2 linked regions of the Homo sapiens genome follow. The protein of the gene in region 1 purifies or fractionates together with the protein of each later gene. This does not show direct contact. Each region holds a gene or a part of one and is shown on either strand. Other genes may lie near its edges.

Evidence for each region. The genes of interacting proteins can lie anywhere in the genome.
Region 2: the proteins of TMEM8B (region 1) and ARHGDIB purify together in Homo sapiens (affinity purification with mass spectrometry; one large-scale study listed by BioGRID and IntAct). This does not show direct contact.

What each region holds. Positions count from the first base shown.
Region 1 is NC_000009.12:35,842,728-35,846,227, reverse strand, and holds part of TMEM8B (transmembrane protein 8B), read right to left. Parts: intron 2,864-3,500; coding exon of another isoform or gene 2,828-2,863; exon of another isoform or gene 2,697-2,827; intron 521-2,696; coding exon of another isoform or gene 515-520; exon of another isoform or gene 432-514; intron 421-431; coding exon of another isoform or gene 343-420; intron 254-342; coding exon 160-253; intron 1-159. UniProt on the Homo sapiens protein: May function as a regulator of the EGFR pathway. Probable tumor suppressor which may function in cell growth, proliferation and adhesion.
Region 2 is NC_000012.12:14,958,802-14,962,908, reverse strand, and holds the start of ARHGDIB (rho GDP-dissociation inhibitor 2), read left to right. Parts: upstream 1-1,307; 5' UTR 1,308-1,372; intron 1,373-1,628; exon of another isoform or gene 1,629-1,755; intron 1,756-4,107. UniProt on the Homo sapiens protein: Regulates the GDP/GTP exchange reaction of the Rho proteins by inhibiting the dissociation of GDP from them, and the subsequent binding of GTP to them. Regulates reorganization of the actin cytoskeleton mediated by Rho family members.

The sequences.
Region 1 (3,500 bases):
GGAGGAGGGGTCAGAACCCAAGAACCCTCACCCACCTGCTCCCACTTCCCGGAACCCTAGCCTATCATTCCTCCATTCCATCCCTCCCCACCTTCACCTCTGCCCGCCACCACCACCCCCACACTGCAGCTTCCTCTCCTCCCCCATTCCTCACCTCACCTTTGGAACAGGTCACTGCTGCATCCCCCAGGCTCAAGGGCACCTCGTGAGTCAAGCATCCAAACACCGTCACGTTTTCCTGGCGCACGGAGCTCTGGGGAGGGCAGGTATGGAAGTGAGGCCGCCACATCCTCCATCTCCACCCACCGCCACCCTCAGACTCCCACCCCTGTTAACCCACACCTTCCAAGGACAGCCCATTCCTCCCGGCGCTCTCCACGCCAAAGCTGCTCTCTCACCTCCATTCTCAGAACAGAAAAACTGAAAAACAACAGATCCTCCACAGCAGAAATCTTTCAAGGACTGATGAGACGGCAAGGCCCAATTTTGAATCTGTTCTTTGGGCAGAAGTGTTTCAATTCTGTCCAAGCAAGAGAGAACACCCTCTTTTTCAGTCCTATCTAGCTCATTAAGGAGAAGGAGGGCTGTTGCCAGTTATAGAAACTAATTGTGGACAAAGGCAATTGTAAGGTTTCCCATCATCTTCACCTGGACCCCAAGACAGGTGGAGCATGAAGACACTCACTCCAACTCAGGTGAAATGATCCTAGGTACTGAACAGTGGTAACAGAATGCCCAAGAGATTAAATGTAGCAACCTGGCTGGGATTAAAAGAAACCAGATATCTGCAAGAGTAAATGTAAGGTGTTGTCTACAAGAATAAAGGCAACAGGATGCCATAAGCTCACCTCATTCAAGAAGGATTTGAGGCAGCTTACATAAAATAGAATATAATAAATGCCTGAGGGAAACTTAAAAATCAGGACAGGAAAATAAAGTCTGTCCCTAAGGTAGGCCATATATTTGATACTGCCTTCCAAGCAACCAAAGCAAAGGAAGTATCATGAGTTACCAGATTTGCAACTACATAATATAAAAGCTAATCAGAGTCTCTGGAGAATCACAGCATCCAAAGGGGAAGTTCTGAGATAAATTCTCATCAAAGCGGCACTGTGTGTTGTCATGCATCCTGTCCTCAGCCACAAGAGTGAGTTTCATACAACTTCCTTATATAACTTCCTTCAATGCAAGCCCGGGGCAATATGCCAAAGTATTACTCAGTGAAAGTCTTTCTAGGAGGGAGCCAAAGAAAAAAGTATATGCAGTTCTCTGATCCAAATGTCCAGTTCTTGATCCAAGGGGAGAAAAAAAAATCAAAATATTTGGAGGAAATACCTTTCAGAATAAACAGAACAGGCTGAGGTGCTTAGCACGCGTCATAGAATGCAGATGGATGGAATGTAAACAGATGCTCATTAAAGTGAATGGATGGGAATGCAGAGAGGGAAAGGGTGAGGGGCTGCAGGAGGGCTAGGCTTCTATTCTCAGGGTACTGAGGAAGAAAGAACAAGTATGCGTAAGGCTGTCCTCTAATTCAGGGTCTACGGTTTCAAGGTCGAATCAAGATCTCACTGTCATTGCCCAGAGGCATGGCAATAAGCAAACACAAAATACATACAGTCTTAGCTAGAACAAAGAGAGAATTTGATTATGTAAATAAGAAATATCTTCAGGTTGAATAAATGGCTCTAACAGGACGACTAGAAAGTTCTAAGCCGTGTCCCATAAAAGACCACATGAAGCCACAGACCAGGCCTCAGGTTGGCTGATGGGAAAGCGGTCCCTGCTCTCAGGGCTGGAGGATAGTAGAGTTAAAAGGATCCCTGGCTCAGGGAACAGCTAAGCTGAAGATATTCTCTAATGGGCCAACATAGGGCTCCGCCCTCATCTCAGTCTTAACGCTGACAGTAATGACTAAGAAGTACAAAAAGTTGGCTTTGCAAGTGTGTGAATTACACAAAGTGGAGAAGGCCCGAGTTCCAAACCAGTATTAGGCAATACCTCAAGGAGGGACATAAATTCTTCCATTCAGGTTCAAAAATTCACTGCAAAAATGCAAGATGCGAATTGGCACCAAAATGTATATGCCCCTTGATTACAACTAGATAAACAAAGTAATTAATGTGGAAAAGACATGGGAGGACATAAACCAAAAACAGCTGTGGGCCAGGCACAGTGGCTCACACTTGTAAACCCAACATGTTGGGCGGCCGAGGCAGGCGGATCAGTTGAGTCCAGGAGTTTGAGACCAGCCTGGGCAACATGGTGAAACCCAGTCTCTACTAAAAATACAAAAAATTAGCTGGGTGTGGTGGTGCACTCCTGTAATCCCAGCTACTCTGGAGGCTGAGGCACAAGAATCACTTGAACCTGCGAAGTGGAGGTTGCAGTGAGCCGAGATCACACCCCTACACTCCAGCCTGGGCAACAGAGTGAGACTCCGTCTCAAAAAAAAAGGGTTAAACAGTTGCATTAGGGAGATATTTTCCCCTATTTTCCAAAGTTTTTATGTGATCCTATTACTCTTATAATAAAAAAGTAAATGTATACAACTGGTTTGAAGAAAATACAAAGGAAGTAAAGGGAAAAGACCCAGGGATCTCAGTTCACCACAAGCCCTAGGTGATCCCACAGTGTAATGCAGCTGCTGAAAAAGGCAACTCAATCTCAGGCAGCACAAATGCAAGTCTTGTTACCTGGTACCCCGGTCCGACCACCTCAGATCACTTATTTCAGAGACACAGTGACCACTAGAAGTATGACCAGGTGAGATAGTGAAGGAAGGGGAGAGATCCAAATACCAAGACCCCTAAGACACTGAGGTTCTTCAGCTTTTGGGTGGTTGCAGGTAACATCTGAAGGGCTGTAAAAATAGGACTGGGATGTAATAAATATATCATACTAATGTAAGATATTAATAATAGGGGAAAACGTGAGAGAGTGGGTATATGAGAACTTTGTGCTTTCTGCTCAACCTAAAACTGCTCTAAAAAAAATTAAGTCTGTTGCTTTAAAAAAGAACAGGACAGAGATAGATTTACTGGAAATGGCTTCTGGATATGGCTTTTACCCACTGAATCAAAGATGAGTGGGTAAAAAATTCATGGAGACAGATTTTGATGGGATGTCAGGAATGCCTTTGGCAATCAGCGCTATCCAAACATGAACTGTGTGGCCTCAAGAGGTGGTAAACTCCCCATCAAAGGAGATTTGCAAGAAAAGGTTAACAACTACCGTAGTGAAAGGCCAGTAATGAGCAGGAAGTGAGCCTACAAAACTGGGAAACCCCAGACACTGAGTTGACCTGGTTGACCCGCCCATCTGTAGCAGAGTGAATACTCAGGACATGTTTGTTGACCAGAATTGGGCTGAGCCATGGTCCCTAATTGTCAGGATGGGTGGGAGCAACCTGGACAGGCTTCCTGGAGGAGGTAAACACCCCAACACCCCTGACACCTTCCCCTTCAAGCTCCCTGGCAGAGCAACCTCCCCACTCTCCA
Region 2 (4,107 bases), on another chromosome or scaffold:
GGTGCAGAGCTATAGAATGTGTAAGTTACTGCCTTCTGTGTAAATTAGGGTTTGCTTTGTTTTTACAATAAAGTTATGTACATTGTTTCAAGGGCTGTATTCTGTCTATGCTATTTTAAAATTTATAGAATAAAGTGGTATTAGGCTTTTAGTATTTTTGCTCATTTTAATTATATACTATTTTCCTTTTCATATTTTTCTAGGCTAATCTCTTCTCACGTGAAATGACTCCCTTGATTATTCCGATTTCATTGACTCTAAGTAGAAGGCAAACCCTGTGGTATCAATTTACAAAGGGAAATGAAGAAGATGCAGTACATTTAGGTGAAAACAAAATAAACGTCAGTTTCTCCAAATTTGTGTGCTTAGTCAGATCTAAATATATTGATGTAGTGTAAATACTGAATATTGAAATATTAACCTAAATAAGCATTTATTATTGGTAACAGCTACGGGAATATACAGCATGAATGTGACTTGGCTGCTTAAAAACTGTTCCTCAGATGGTTTAAACATGGCCTCCGAGACTTGTTCCCATTTAAATTACTTCATAAACCATTTCCTCAAATATGGTACAAAGTCTATTTTGGCACTTGTTAAGTTGTCACAAATTCTGAGTTGGAAGACTATGAATTAATGAAGTTTTACTTCCTTTTGTAATTTCTTTCCTAGGTTTCATCAAAGACAGTACTTTCGCTTGCTTGTTTGTTTCATTTGAAGAAAAATCAGCCAAAACTATTAAAAACAATATTTGACTGTTTGTAGTGCAATACAAAGCTACGTCTTGAAATTATAACCAACAAAACTCCAAAAATCTGTTTAAGGACACATTTTTAAATTTAGGACCGTAGTATATGCAGTTAACAATCATCATTTCTTAGCACTCTACATTCACTGCCAGCAAACTTTCAACGTATCTGGTTGATAATGAAGCTGGCGGGGACCCAGTGGGAACAGAAGTGAGTGGTACAAAGTAAAGCCGATGTGAATTTATTGCTACTGGTTTCAGGCTCCTTACCTCCATAGGCTTATGCACTGCAATGACCTGATTATCAGAAATACCCTCACAATTATTCATAATACCCATAGCTATAGGCTCCACACTCTTGCGTGTACATTCATGCATCTCCACGTCACACGGGCTGTCATGCTCGCACATGTGCCATTAATTGACAAGAATGCTGCTCAAGTTGGCTGATCAAGAGATAGGCAGTGCAAAGGAACAGGATTTGAGACAGCCCAGGGTTTCCTCTTCAAGTAGGTCTAAAACATTTTTTTTTCTCATTGACTTCCTTCCTGTTCTAACTGCCAGTACTCAGAAGTCAGAGTTGAGAGACAGAGGCACCCCGGACAGAGACGTGAAGCACTGAATGTAAGTTCAAATACCTCGGGCTGGGGAGGCTTCAGGTGGGCACAGAGCAAAGTCGGAAACCTCTAGACGGGGCTACCGCCCTCGACAGTTTATTATTTTTTTAGAGGGGCAGTTCTTCTTTAAAACAAACTTTATGATAAGAAATTGCTAAGGAGGCTGCAGAGAAGGGGAAGTTAGAGGAGGGAAGGGTAGCAGTGACTCAGGGGAGGAGGCTTAAAAAAGGAGGGTACAGGGTGCGCTGCAGCCCAGGAAGTGCAATCCTGAATATTCTCAGAAGGGCTCTGAGAACACGCACCGGGAGTGCCTGGAGGGGTTTCCTGCAAAGTAGGAGCAGGCACCTGGCCAGGCTTGGAAGAAAAAGACTGTAGATCCAAAATGATACGGTCTGTGCTGGTGGATGGTGGGTTGTGCTGGGGTGGAGATATGTGGTTTCCTGTTTTTAAGCAGACAATGTAAAAAGACTGGTTGAAAGAGAAAAAAAAATGGTTCAAAGCTGTCAAATATTAAACTGTCTTCCACTAAATAATTTTCTGGTGATATAAGAGAAATGCATAATGAAATCCTCCCTTAGAGTGCAGGGGCTTTATCCCTCAAAGAGGAAGTATGGTATAGCACATTGTTATGTACTCATGAGTCATACAGTGATAGAATTTCTACCACTGACAAAGGCTGTGTATTAAATTCCTGCAGTCGGATGGGCAGATCTTTGCTGTTGTTGTCAAAAATAATAATAGGGCTGGGCGTGGTGGCTCACGCCTGCAATCCCAGCACTTTGGGAGGCCGAGGCGGGTAGATCACCTGAGGTCAGGAGTTCAAGACCGGCTTGACCAACATGGTGAAACCCCATCTCTACTGAAAATACAAAATTAGCTGGGTGTGGTGGTGCATCCCTGTAATCCCAGTTATTTGGGAGGCTGAGGCAGGAGAATCACTTGAACCCAGGAGGCAGGGGTTGCAGTGAGCCAAGATCACGCCATTGCACTCCAGCATGGGCAACAAGAGCGAAACTCTGGCTCAAAAAATAAAAATATTAATAATGATAATAGCCCTTTAGGTATGAGATAACTAACAGCAAACATGGAAAACACCAAATAACGTATTAAGAGACAGGTTTGAGAAAAATTCAAGGGGGCCCAGCTAGGACAGCTGATCAGTGGGCCTTCAAAATGTCAAGGTCTGAATTTCAGCCACCATTAGGAGAAGTGCTTTAGGTATGACCTGAAATACTTTCTTCCCTTTTAGAGGACTTCCCAGCCAGCATGTTTCATAAACATAATCTGTAATTAAACTCTAGACCTATGGTAACTTGAGGTGTGTGTCTGGCAAGCCCTGGGCAGTTCTTCATTCAGAGTGGGGAAAGGCAGACTGCTCTCACCCGGAGGGCTCATGGTCACCACTTCACATGGAGACCTAGAGCCCCTGGAGTCAGGGTTGGCCTGGCCATCTTCACTGCAGGGATGGTCAGGCACAGGAGATCAAGAGGACCATGGCACCTGTTGGTCCGGAGAGACAGGGGGCAGAGGTCCAGTCCCTAGCAGGCATCGTGAATCTTGCCATTGGCTTTGTGTTTTTTTAATTTGTAAGAATATATTCCCTCCCAAAGCAGATATAGCACAAGCTTAGTAACAAGAGCATCTTACTCTTTTGTGAGATGTGTGAAATTCTAAGAGACAGTTCTTTCTCCATCCATGCTTCACAGATGCAAAACCTGAGGACTAACTATGCTGTCACTGAACAGAAACTGGCAAGCATTTTTCAGGCCTCGACTGGAATTTGGTCCTTCCTTGCTTTGGAGAGCATGAGTTTGTCCCCTAGGGAAGTTAGCTCTGAGCAACATTAAGGTTCTGTTTTCAGTAGACACTCAGCACCACAAAGTCATTCTGAGGGAAAGATACGGGTCTGAGCTGATTTGGGAGAGCACAGTACATGACAAACATCAGCTAGCAGGAAAAGAGAAGCCCTGGGGAGTCGAAATTATGCAGATAGAAAAGGAGAACCAACATTCATTGAGTGCCTTCTATGTGTCAGGCCTGGTGATAAAAACTTTCAAATTTTGTTCCTGAGAAGAATGCAGAAGTGTTCAATAATTTGACTAAAATTACATACTGATACAAAAAGGATCAATAGCCACAATGCCTCTGAATTGCAATTCACAGGGCATGGTGGTGCGTGCCTGTGGTCCTACCTACTCAGGAGGCTCACGTGATCCTCCCGCCTCAACCTCCCGAGTAGCTGGGACTATAGGCGCGCATCACCACGCTGGCTAATTTTACCATTTTTAGTAGAGACGGGGTTTCTCCATGTTGCCAGGGCTGGTCTTGAATTCCTGGGCTCAAGCAATCCGCCTGCCTTGGCCTCCCAAAGTCCTGGGATTAAAGGCGTGAGCCACCATGCATGGCCTATTATTATTTTTTTGAGACAAGTCTCACTCTGTCACCCGAGCTGAAGTGCAGGGGCGTGAACGCAGCTCACTGCAGCCTCGACCTCCTGAGGCTCAGGTGATCTCCCACATTCTTTAGGAAGAATCACATGGAAGAAATTTTCTCCAATTCCATATTTTGAGAGTTCTTATTCCTGGTTTGTGTTATTGCTGCCCGGGATCCTGTATTCAAGGCTACACTGGCATACCCAGAGATGAGTCTCATGTTGCCCCTGAAACGTCAGCAACATTTATCTGTGCAATAAGCACATCCTGAATCATCCTGTGTTGTGTTACTCTCTGGTGTCCACAGCCA